Linked DNA regions of Homo sapiens. The main gene of each other region encodes a partner of the protein of the gene in region 2 in a complex. Each region holds a gene or a part of one and is shown on either strand. Other genes may lie near its edges. The genes, in order: ZC3H13, CBLL1 and WTAP.

What was found.
Region 1: CBLL1 (region 2) and ZC3H13 share a complex: the UniProt entries of both Homo sapiens proteins name them as parts of the WMM complex.
Region 3: CBLL1 (region 2) and WTAP share a complex: the UniProt entries of both Homo sapiens proteins name them as parts of the WMM complex.

Annotation. Positions count from the first base shown.
Region 1 is NC_000013.11:45,969,063-45,972,816, forward strand, and holds part of ZC3H13 (zinc finger CCCH domain-containing protein 13), read right to left. Parts: intron 1,404-3,754; coding exon 1,300-1,403; intron 910-1,299; coding exon 1-909. UniProt on the Homo sapiens protein: Associated component of the WMM complex, a complex that mediates N6-methyladenosine (m6A) methylation of RNAs, a modification that plays a role in the efficiency of mRNA splicing and RNA processing.
Region 2 is NC_000007.14:107,747,009-107,750,762, reverse strand, and holds part of CBLL1 (E3 ubiquitin-protein ligase Hakai), read right to left. Parts: exon of another isoform or gene 3,267-3,754; intron 1,884-3,266; coding exon 1,716-1,883; intron 1-1,715. UniProt on the Homo sapiens protein: E3 ubiquitin-protein ligase that mediates ubiquitination of several tyrosine-phosphorylated Src substrates, including CDH1, CTTN and DOK1. Targets CDH1 for endocytosis and degradation.
Region 3 is NC_000006.12:159,730,478-159,734,231, reverse strand, and holds part of WTAP (pre-mRNA-splicing regulator WTAP), read right to left. Parts: intron 3,348-3,754; exon of another isoform or gene 3,267-3,347; intron 1,836-3,266; exon of another isoform or gene 1,801-1,835; intron 1-1,800. UniProt on the Homo sapiens protein: Associated component of the WMM complex, a complex that mediates N6-methyladenosine (m6A) methylation of RNAs, a modification that plays a role in the efficiency of mRNA splicing and RNA processing.

The DNA.
Region 1 (3,754 bases), on a different chromosome or scaffold from region 2:
GGCATTTTCTGTGTGAGTCTTCATTGGCAAAAGTATTATTGGTGGTATTGGTGGGGGTGGCAGAGGTGGAAATAGTGATGGCAGATGTGCTGAAAGAGGTGGCGGCAGCAGCAGTAGTGGCAGCAAGAGTTGCAGGCACAGTTGTAGCAGTGGCAGTAGCCACAGGCGGTGGAGGAGGAAGAAGAGAAGATAGAGGAGAAGGGGTACTACCAGGAGTCGTGGCGGTGGCAGTATGCTCTGCTTCTGTCACCTCTGTACGGTCAGGGACATCCTCATCAGACCAGTCACTGAATGCTGTATCTTCTTTTTTCTGGGAGTCCTCTAGAATACCATTCTTACCATTGCACATTTCAACCAATTCCTCTTTAGTTGTTATAGGGGGAGTCCGTGGGCCTCTTTTCTTCTTACTTTGCTGGGCTGCTTCTTCATCAGAAATATCAGAATCACCTTTGGATTTTTTACGTTTTTTTTCAATGCTTTTCTTTTTCTGTCCTTTTTTTGGTGAAAATACTTGACCATCTTCAGATGTTGTCTCTATGTTACCCCTCTCTATTCCAACATCATCCTCTTTCTTTTTCTTAATTGGTTTCTTTTGAATTTTTGCTTTCTTCTTGTTTTCATCATGAGCTCGATCAGATGTCTCTCGATCTTCAGACTGGTGGTGTCCTATAATGTCCTGTGCACGCATTCTTGAGCTTTCCAGGATTTCTGTCTGTTCTCTCTGTTTATCTACAGAAGAAACTTTCTCCTTGAGTTCCTGTTCTTCGTAGCGCCTTGAACTCTCTTTCCTTTCTGGTTTACGATCCTCCTCTTTCCATCTACCCTGTCTGTCTTCTGTGAGGTGCGAGGGACTAAGAGAACGAGATTCTTGAGGTCGTACAACTTGGCTCAAGAGTCTGTGTTTTTCATCTATATAAAAGATAAAAGCAATCACACTCTCACCAGGTTAGTAACCACTGCATGGTACATATAGATTATAATAATTTCTCCTCACACCTGTAATCCCAGGACTTTGGGAGGCCGAGGCAGGTGGATCATGAGATCAAGAGATCAAGATCATTTAAAAACTTTTAAAATGACAATAATTTTAGTAAAAATAAAAATATGGCTTTACTATAAATAGTAGAAAATGACAGTACTCTAACACATACTTTAGTCACAAAAGGAGATATTTAGAGGCAGCAAAGCAAGACAACTTTTTAAAAATCTTAATTCATCAGTTCCTACTAGTATGAAAGGATGGTTTCATGGTTACAAATGAATATGAATATAGAGAGACAGAAAACAGAGTCTGCTTACTTTTATCATCTCCACTGTTGTAGGCATCACTGTCCGGAGAATGTTCACGCCGGCGCTTCGGGGACTGTCTAGGGCTGGGACTCCCTTCATTTCTATAGCGCTTCCTAAATTGGACAAGCAAACACAATTTATAAAATTCTAGGGGGCAAAAAAAGAGATTTTTTTGTTTTTACTAGTATCTCTTTACTATAACTGGAACATATAATTGTAGGAAAGCAATATTGCCAGAGTGTATCATACAAAGGATATTCAGTGTCTTTAATACAAATTCTTTACTTCATTTGCTAAGAATTGTGAACTTAAAATACACAACATTTCTTCTTCTTCTTCATTATACATGTAGAATAACTCAAGTGAAAATTGCCAGATTTAAATACTGTAAGGTGGTAACATGCAGCACAGAAACCAATATATTAATGTACCCTCTGATATAAACATTCAGCAATTTTGCATTCTTATGATATAAAAATGCCTTATGCTGCAGAGCTGAATGAGAAAACCTAATATTGGCTTTGAAGTAAAAAAGCTATGAGTTCAACTTATAACTACATTAGTTATTACGCAGCCTTAAGTAAGTTCCTTGAAGTCACTGAACCTTAGTTTCTCATCTGAAAATGGTGGGTGGGGCTGAATGGGTGGGAAATGAGAGTCCATTTCATAAAATTGCAGTAAGGAATAAATTAGTTATGTCATAAACCCAGTGCCAAATATGTTGTGGGTACACCATAAAATTAGTTCCTTTCCCCTTCATGGAAATCACTTTCTTGCTGACAAATTAATAAAATAATTCATACGTTCATTATATTTTTTGTTCCTTAGTTGAGCTTTAAATGAGTAGCGTTTTATATCTCTTGGGTACTTAAATTATTCTAGTGTTTTCCCCCATTTTCATTAAAATTTGACTACCTGTTTTTTCACTAACATTGTTTGTTTATAAATACTATGGTCAAAAGTTAAGAAACATATTGTATACATGGACCAATGGAACAGAATAGAAAACCCAGAAATAAAGCCAAATGATCTTCAGCAAAAGCATACAAAACATAACTGGGGAAAGGACACTCTATTTACTAAATGGTGGTGGGAAAATTGGCAAGTCACATGTAAAAGAATGAAACCGGATCCCTCTCAGCTCAAACAAAAATCAGCTCAAGAAGGATCAAAGACTTAAATCTAAAACCTGAAACCATTAAAATTCTAGAAATTAACACTGGGAAAACTCTTTTGGACACTGGCCTAGGCAAAGACTTCATGGCCAAGATTCTAAAAGCAAACGCAACGAAACCAAAAATAAATAAATGGAACCTAATTAAACTAAAAAGCTTCTGCACAGCAAAATAAATAACAAAGACAACCCATAGAATGGGAGAAAATGTTTGCAAACTATGTATCCAACAAAGGACTAGTATCCAGAATCTATAAGAAACTCAAATAAATCAGCAAGAAAAACATAAATAATCCCATCAAAAAGTGGATAAAGGACACGAATAGACATTTCTCAAAAGAAGACATACAAACAGCCAACAAACGTATGAAAAAATGCTCAAAATCACTAATCATCAGGGAAATACAAATTAAAAACCACAATGAGATGCCACCTTACTCCTACAAAAATGGCCATTAAAAAGTAAAAAAAACAGGAGATGTTAGCATAGACATGGTGAAAAGGGAATGCTTATTCACTGCTGGTGGGTATGTAAATAAGTACAACCTCTATGAAAAACAGTATGGAGAGTCCCTAAAGAACTAAAAGGAGATATTTGATCCAGCAATCCCACTACTGGGTATCTACCCAAAGGAAAAGAAGTCATTATATGAAAAAAAAAAACATGCACATATATGTTTATAGCAGCAAAATTCACAACTGTAAAGATATAGAACCAACCTAAGTGCCCATTGGCCAATGGGTGGATAAAGAAAATGTGGTATATATACACCATGAAACCATGGACTACTACTCAGCCATAAAAAGGAAAAAAATAATGTCTTTTGCAGCAACTTGTTCTCACCTGTAAGTGAGAGCTAAGCTATGAGTATGCAAAGGCATACAGAGTGATATAATGGGCTTTGGAGACTCAGAAGGGGGAGGGTGGAAGGGGAGTGAGGGATAAAAACGTACATGTTTGGTACAATGTGGACTACTCAGGTGACAGGTGCACTAAAATCTCTGAATTCATCCAGGTAACCAAAAACCTCTTGTACCCTAAAAGCTATTGAAATAAAAATAAAACAAAAACATACCAGCACATGTATATCATAGACAGCTCCTTTATATAGATGAACAACCATGTGGAGAAGGCCCCAGGTGTAATATGACAACTCACAGGCCCAAGCTTGTGTACTACTTTATCCAAAGCTCCTCTCCCATCAATAACTGGCCTATTTCCCCATTTTTCATATCTAATGACTTGCTATGACAAGAGAATGTGGTGAAAGTGACACTGTGCAAATGTGA
Region 2 (3,754 bases):
CAGGGCTACATTTGGCCCACAGACATAGTTTGCTAACCTGTAATCAAGGGTAAGATGGAAAAACTCTTTTATACTGGTGAAATAGGGGAAGGCCTTTCAAATAATGTCACAAAACCCAGAAGTCATAAAAGCAAAGACCGGATATCTGACTATATAGAATCTTCAAGATTCTCTGCAATAACTATAATCCCAGCACTTTGGGAGGCCGATGCGGGCGGATCATGAGGTCAGGAGATCGAGACCATCCTGGCTAACACAGTGAAACCCCGTCTCCACTAAAAATACAAAAATTAGCTGGGCGTGGTGGCGGGCACCTGTAGTCCCAGCTACTCGGGAGGCTGAGGCAGGAGAATGGCATGAACCTGGGAGGCAGAGCTTGCAGTGAGCCGAGATCCCGCCACTGCACTCCAGCCTGGGTGACAGCGCAAGACTCTGTCTCAAAAAAAAAAAGATTCTCTGCAATAAATATTTTGTATACAAAATTCAAAAGACAAATGAAGAATATATACAATATAGGCCAGGCACAGTGGCTCACGCCTGTAATCCCAGCACCTTGGGAGGCTAAGGCAAGAGGACTGTTGAGTCCAGGAGTTCAAAACCAGCCTGGGCAACATAGCAAGACCCCATGACTACAAAAATTAAATATAAAAAATTAGCCAGGCAGGTGGGGTGCACCTGTAGTCCCAGCTCCTCAGGAGACTGAGGTGGAAAGATCACTTGAGCCTGGAATATCAAGCCATGATCCCACCACTGCATTCCAGCCCAGGCAACAGAGTAAGACTCAGTCTCAAAAAAACAAAAACAAACAAACAAACAAACAAAAAAATATATATACACACACGCACATACATAACATATAACAAAAACCCTATTAATTTACAAAGAACTCAGAAGAAAGGATCTAAACAAGAATGGTCAATGCTATGAAAAAATATACACTCTTTCATAATTAAAATAAATTTACATCAAAACAAAAATTTTAAAAGGTTTCTAGTACTCAGTATTGGTGTATGGCAGTAAAAACTAACATACCTTTTTATTATTATTTTTTTAATTCCAAAGCCTTTAAAACTACAAATTTGGATATTTTAAAACTTGACAGATACTGTGGATTTTAGAGTTTGACAAGTACTGTCAAATTGCTCTTAAAAAAAAAAAAAAGGCCAAATCTGTGCAAAGTACAAATTCTACAAAGTATACATACTAAACTGTATGTCCAAGAATATTTGGTGCAATGTTTTTTGTAACAGAAAAAACTGGAAAAACTGTTAAATAAATTATGGTATATCTATAAATACCCAAACCTATTTTTTTAATGAGGTACATCTGTAAGTACTGATAAGAAAAAAATCTCAAATGCATATTACATGAAAAAATGGCAACTACACATAAAAAATTAATACTTTTGTATAAAAAAGTCAACAGGGATTATCTTTGGATAGAAGGATTTTACTTTTAATGTTATGCTTTCTGCAATACTGTTGAGATTACTGAACAATGGGCAGTATTGCTTTCAACAACAAAAGGAACCAAATCAAAAAATATTTATAAAGGAAAATAAAAATACAATGTGCTACAATGAGAAGTCAAACAAGAAGGTTGAAGAATGAATAGAATATGTAAGACAAAAAGAGGTAGCTATAAGATCACACAGACTGTCCGAAGCAATCAGATAAAACAGAAAGAGTGTTGGACCTATTAGTTAAACAAATTACCTTCATCACCAGGTGGAGCCTTTGCAGGCATCCTGTTTATAGTTCTTTGAGTTCGCGGTGCAGGTTTCGCTTTGTTTGCTTGTTTGGAGATGAGCTTTATAGGAATTCGTCTGCGAACATCAAGACCACCCAAGGATCCAGAACTATTAGTGCCTTGTAACTCATTGTCTGTGTTAGGAAAAAAAAGTTGTAATTTCTTTTAGTTTTTCTTTTTAAAGATTATTCTGCCACAGGTATTAAAACACCATACCTAACATTATCAAGGTTAAAGATCTGGGTTCTGATTTTCAATATTACATTAAGTTTAACTGCTAATTTTATTTATTTTGGATCAACACTTAAGGCAATGCTTTTTAACCCCTTTTGAGATACAGAATCCTTTAAGAAATTGATAAAAGTTATAGGACCTCTCCCTAGAAAAGTGAATAAAATTTTTCATATAATTCCAGAGAAGTTTACAGAAACATGAAACCATTAATGAACCCAAGAACCATTGTCTTGAACTACAAGAGAATTTTTTAAAAGAAAAAGAGTAAGAAGGAGAAAAAGAACGAAAACCATCCCTGTCTCCATGTCTGATCATCAAGCATGCAAAGCAGAAAATAAATTTAGTAAACTGAACTTACTAATACTGATGAAGGCAAAATTAAACAATGCGTTTGAAAATGAAGTTAAGAAATGTGATTATTCCTTAAGCGCAAAATAATTATTCTAAAAATCATTCAGAAATATAGTAAAAATCATTATACCATTTAGTAGTAAAAACATGCAATAATGTATTTGTGCTATAACATGTGACTGAGTTCTTAGTCAGCACTGTAATGGAAAATTATAATTTAAGAGGATGCAAAGTTCCTATACTACAACTAGGTCTAAACAAGTGTCACTTTCTAGTCCCTGGAGTCTTTGCTTGTTATTGTCTATAGAATAAATTAATTCTTGTCCCATGAGTAACAGGAGTATTATTTCATAGAACTGACTCCATCTAAAGCTTAAGAGTTACCTTTTTTCAAGTAGATGAAAATATATAATACAGAAAATATTTAACTTGACCTACTAAAGAAGGAAAATGCTTAAAATAGGAAATACAAATAACGTATTTTTTAATTTGTAGTGTTTTAAACATGACAAGTTATTGAACAAGGTTGTATAACTGCCCCTGCAGGAAATATTACAGTCAAGACTGATAGCCAAACCATCCACATTAAATTCAGCAAAGCCAAATTTGGAAGTAGTAAGCTAGTACCAATGGCCTCCAAGGCTACTAGGATTACAGACACACAATAAGTTCACATTCATTTGCACTTTTTCTGAACAAAATACCAAACAAAATTAAAAATGGGTCCATAACGATTATTTTAATCTACTTACTACTCTTATAACAGCTAATCCTAAAACAAAGAGGGGTGGAATTACATGGTTAGCTAGAATCTTGAGTTAGGGTTAACCCAACTTGATCAGCTTTCAACACTTCATTAAATAGACTCACAAGCTGATTAATGTATTTGATCTGTTTTCATTGTAGTTGCTTATGTATGTAAAAGTACTTACAAGCAATGCATTGGCCAAAAGAAATATGAATGACTTTTTTCCTTGCTCAAAAAGTATTCCTGACATTCCAATGAACTAAAAAGCAAGTCGTTGTAGACATATAATCAGTTCAATGCTGTCCCTCAAATATTAAATATTCAAATATCAAAATGGTTTAATCGTTTTACCTTTGTGAATAATGAAAATACCAACACTTCATTACAAGTCCTTTTCACACCATCCTGAACACTTGAGGTCTCTACTGTTGCTTGCATAGTCTACCACTTTCAAGAGCTGGCTGGCCCTTCCCACTCTGCTTCACAGATTCAAGTTCATGAGGTACAGCATTTAATAATGATAACATTCTGGGTTTCTTTGGGACTTTTTTGCTTTTTGTTGTTTTTAAATTAAGAATCAGAGCATAAAGCACTATTTCCTTTTGAATACAGTAACAAATTATAAAGTCCTTAACAACAAAAATTTCTTAGATATTACATAGAAAGTGACTA
Region 3 (3,754 bases), on a different chromosome or scaffold from region 2:
ACCGAGCCCGGGCAATGTGGTAAGACCCTGTCTCTCATTAAAACAAACAAACAAAACACACACACACCAAGACTACTTGATTTCTCCCACTTGATTTTGAGATTCCTCAAAAGGAGATAATCTTCCAACAGCATGTTTTATACTACGTACAATCTCAACTCCACTTTATAAATGAAACATTCTAATCATACTGTTATTAAACCCTGGTTTTCAGATTAAGTAAATTGTGTTGAAGAAAGCAGAATTTAGAGGAAAAATCATAAATTGATCTTAGATTACTGGCTTGCTTCTTTCTCTGTTTAATCTTTTTTTTTGGAGATGGAGTTTCGCTCTTGTTGCCCGGGGTGGAGTGCAACGGCGCGATCTCGGCTCACCGCAACCTCCGCCTCCTGGGTTCAAGCAATTCTCCTGCCTCAGCCTCCCAAGTAGCTGGGATTACAGGCATGCGCCACCACGCCCGGCTAACTTCCTTGTATTTTTAGTAGAGACGGGGTTTCTCCATGTTGGTCAGGGTGGTCTGGAAATCCCGACCTCAGGTGATCTGCCCACCTCAGCCTCCCAAGTGCTGGGACTACAGGCATGAGCCAGCGTGCTGGGCTTTTTTTTTTTTTTGAGACAGTCTCGCTCTGTCACCTAGACCACAGTGCAGTGGTGCGATGATGGCTCACTGCAATCTTGACCTCCCAGGCTCAAGTGATCCTCCCACCTCAGCCTCCCGAGTACCTGGGACTACAGGCATGTGCCACCACACCCAGTTAATTTTTTGTAATTTTTTTTGGTAGAGACAGGGTTTCGCCATGCTGCCCAGGCTGGTCTCGAACTCCTGGGCGCAAGCAATCCAACTGCCTTGGCCTCCCAAAGTGCTGGCATTACAGGCGTGAGCCACTGCACCCTGCCTTCCCTCTTTAATCTTTCTCAAGGGATACAGCAAACAGATAAAAACCTCAGTATTTGTTTCTGAGCTAATTGTATACAGTCTGTTTCACTGAGCAAGTCACTCTGTCCTATGAAGACATAAACCATATTACTATGATATAAAATGTATATTATTCTTTTTTTCTTTAAATTGGTTCCTCCCTTGTTGCCCAGTTTATTATCTCTGCTGCCATTACAGAAAGCTGCTTTGTAACTACCTTAACCTGGTGGCAGTCATTTTAATCATCTCAGAAACCATCACCATATTTAACTCCACATGTCTAACTACTTCTATTTTAGCATGACACATGCATTAGGCTGCAAAGTCTTAGAACCCAGATATCAAATCTGGCATTTCCTTGTAATTTCCCATTTGTCTGGAGCTAAATATCAATTTTACACACACACACACACACACACACACACACACTATATATATATACAGAGAGAGAGAGAGAGAGAGAGAAAGAAGCAGACAGAGACACTCCCCCTCCCCCTGCGCCCGGTCTCTGTTGCCCAGGCTGGAGTGCAATGGCGCGATCTCGGCTCACTGCAACCTCCACCGCCTGGATTCAAGCGATTCTCCTGCCTCAGCCTCCAGAGTAGCTGAGATTACAGGTGCCTGCCACCACGCCCGGCTAATTTTTGTATTTTTAGTTTCACCATGTTGACCAGGCTGGTCTCGAACTCCTCACCTCAGGTAATCCACCTGCTTTGGCCTCCCAAAGTGTTGGGATTACAGGTGTAAGCTACTGCGCCCGGCCAATAATATTTTTAATTTAAAAAATCTTAAAGACAATTTTAGCTATTTGAGCTGTACATATTTAACCGGTATATCAGTATCTGTATCTATGTATATACGAACATAAAATTTTGAGAACCAACCAGGAACTTCACGTAACAGGTACTGTGGTAGAGATCTGTGAATGACAGTTTGAAAACAGCTATATTTATCACTATGGCTAGGTGGTATACCTTTTATCTAGTTACTAAGGCATCCTACCTACTCAGTATGTACAACTTTAGTTGTAATACTAAAGTATCATGGATGCTGTTCAATATAAATTCCAGCTTATAAAAGTTATTATAGTTGGTCCTTGACCAACCCAGGTTTTAGCTGCATGGGTCCATTTATATTTGGATTTTTTTCAATCAAACTCAGATTAAAAAATACAGTACTCGGATCAAAAATACAGCATTCACGGGATGCGAAACCTGAGTATGCAAAGGGCAGACTTTTCATACACCAGGGTTCAAATTCCTATGCCAGGATTTTGGCAAGGATCATCGGTATGTGGTTCTACAACCTGATACTTTCCCTAGGTTTACTTGCTTACTCTCTTCTTAAAGACAGGTATCCATATTCTTATTCCACTAAAATAAAATTAACAGTAAGCTTAGCAAAAAATGAGATGATAATCTGTTTTTAAAGGGCATTAAAAGGACTGAGAAACACATGAAGAAAGTTCTGATAACCTTGGTATTCTGAAACAGGTTGTCAACTTTGCAAATACAAAAGTAGCAAAATCTCTGCACCTCAGTTTCCCCATCTCAAAAAGAATTACCACAACCAGGGCCCAAATACTGTGCTATTTCTGAAGACAGACATTAATCTTTAGCATGGTAACTGGCACAAAATGGGCATTTAATTAATAGTTTCTTCTCCCCATCAAAAACACAGACTCAGTGTTTCTTGAAAAACCTGAAGAGATAATCCACAGGTTGAGGATAATAATCATACTGTCCTCCCGACTGTTTCTAACACTTACTGCAGAATTCTTTGGCATCTCCAATATTTAGGATTCTAAACAGAAGTTACTTAAATTTTCTTTTTTTCCTCTCTTTTTTTGAGACAGAGTCTCACTCTGTCGCCCAGGCTGGAGTGCAGTGACTCGATCACAGCTCACTGCAGCCTCCATCTCTTGGGCTCAACTGATCCTCTTGCCTCAGCCTCCTTTGTAGCTGGGATCACAGGCATGAACCACCACGCCCAGCTAATTTGTTTTTTTTTTCTTGGTAGTAGAGATGAGGTCTTGCTATGTTGCCCAGGCTGGTCTTGAACTCCTGGGCTCAGGAATCCTCCTGCTTGGGCCTCCAAAAGTGCTGGGACTACAGTTGTGAGCCACCATGCCCAGCCTGCAATTATTGAAATTTCTTTTCTTTTTTTCTTTTTTTTGAGACGTAGTCTCTCTCTGTTGCCCAGGCTGGAGTGCACGGGCATGATCTGGGCTCACTGCAACCTCCGCCTCCCGGGTTCAAGCGATTCTACTGCCTCAGCCTCCCAAGGAGCTGGAACTACAGGCACGCACCACCATGCCCAGCTAATTTTTGTATTTCTTTTTTTTTTCTAGTAGAGACAGCGTTTCACTATGTTGGCCAGGCTGGTCTCCAACTCCTGACATTGGCTTATGTTCTTTTTAAAAAGTTTGATGGTGAGTAGATTTTAATTAAATGGTGCTTTTTATTGAAATTTTCTTTAAAAATAAAACTCTGTATTTGTAATGTAAGTCAGGAGTAAATACAGATTTTGGATAAATGTCTACACTTCCTAAGTCAACTCTCAGAGTCACTTTTAAGATCACTCTAGCTGTCTGGGGTATCCAACTTGGGAAATTCAGAGCCTCAGTATTTAGAAAGAAAATCCTTCCTCAACTTTAATCTGATGAAAAGTAAATCTTTCCTTGAAAGTCGATGATATGCCACAAAGTTAAATGCGCCATCTGGCAAAAGGCAAATTAGAACAGGTTCAAAATTTACAACTGTCTACAACATTCAACTATTTGGTCAAAATAGAACCTAATTGGCAATTTTGACTTTCACACCACACGAATGTACCGAG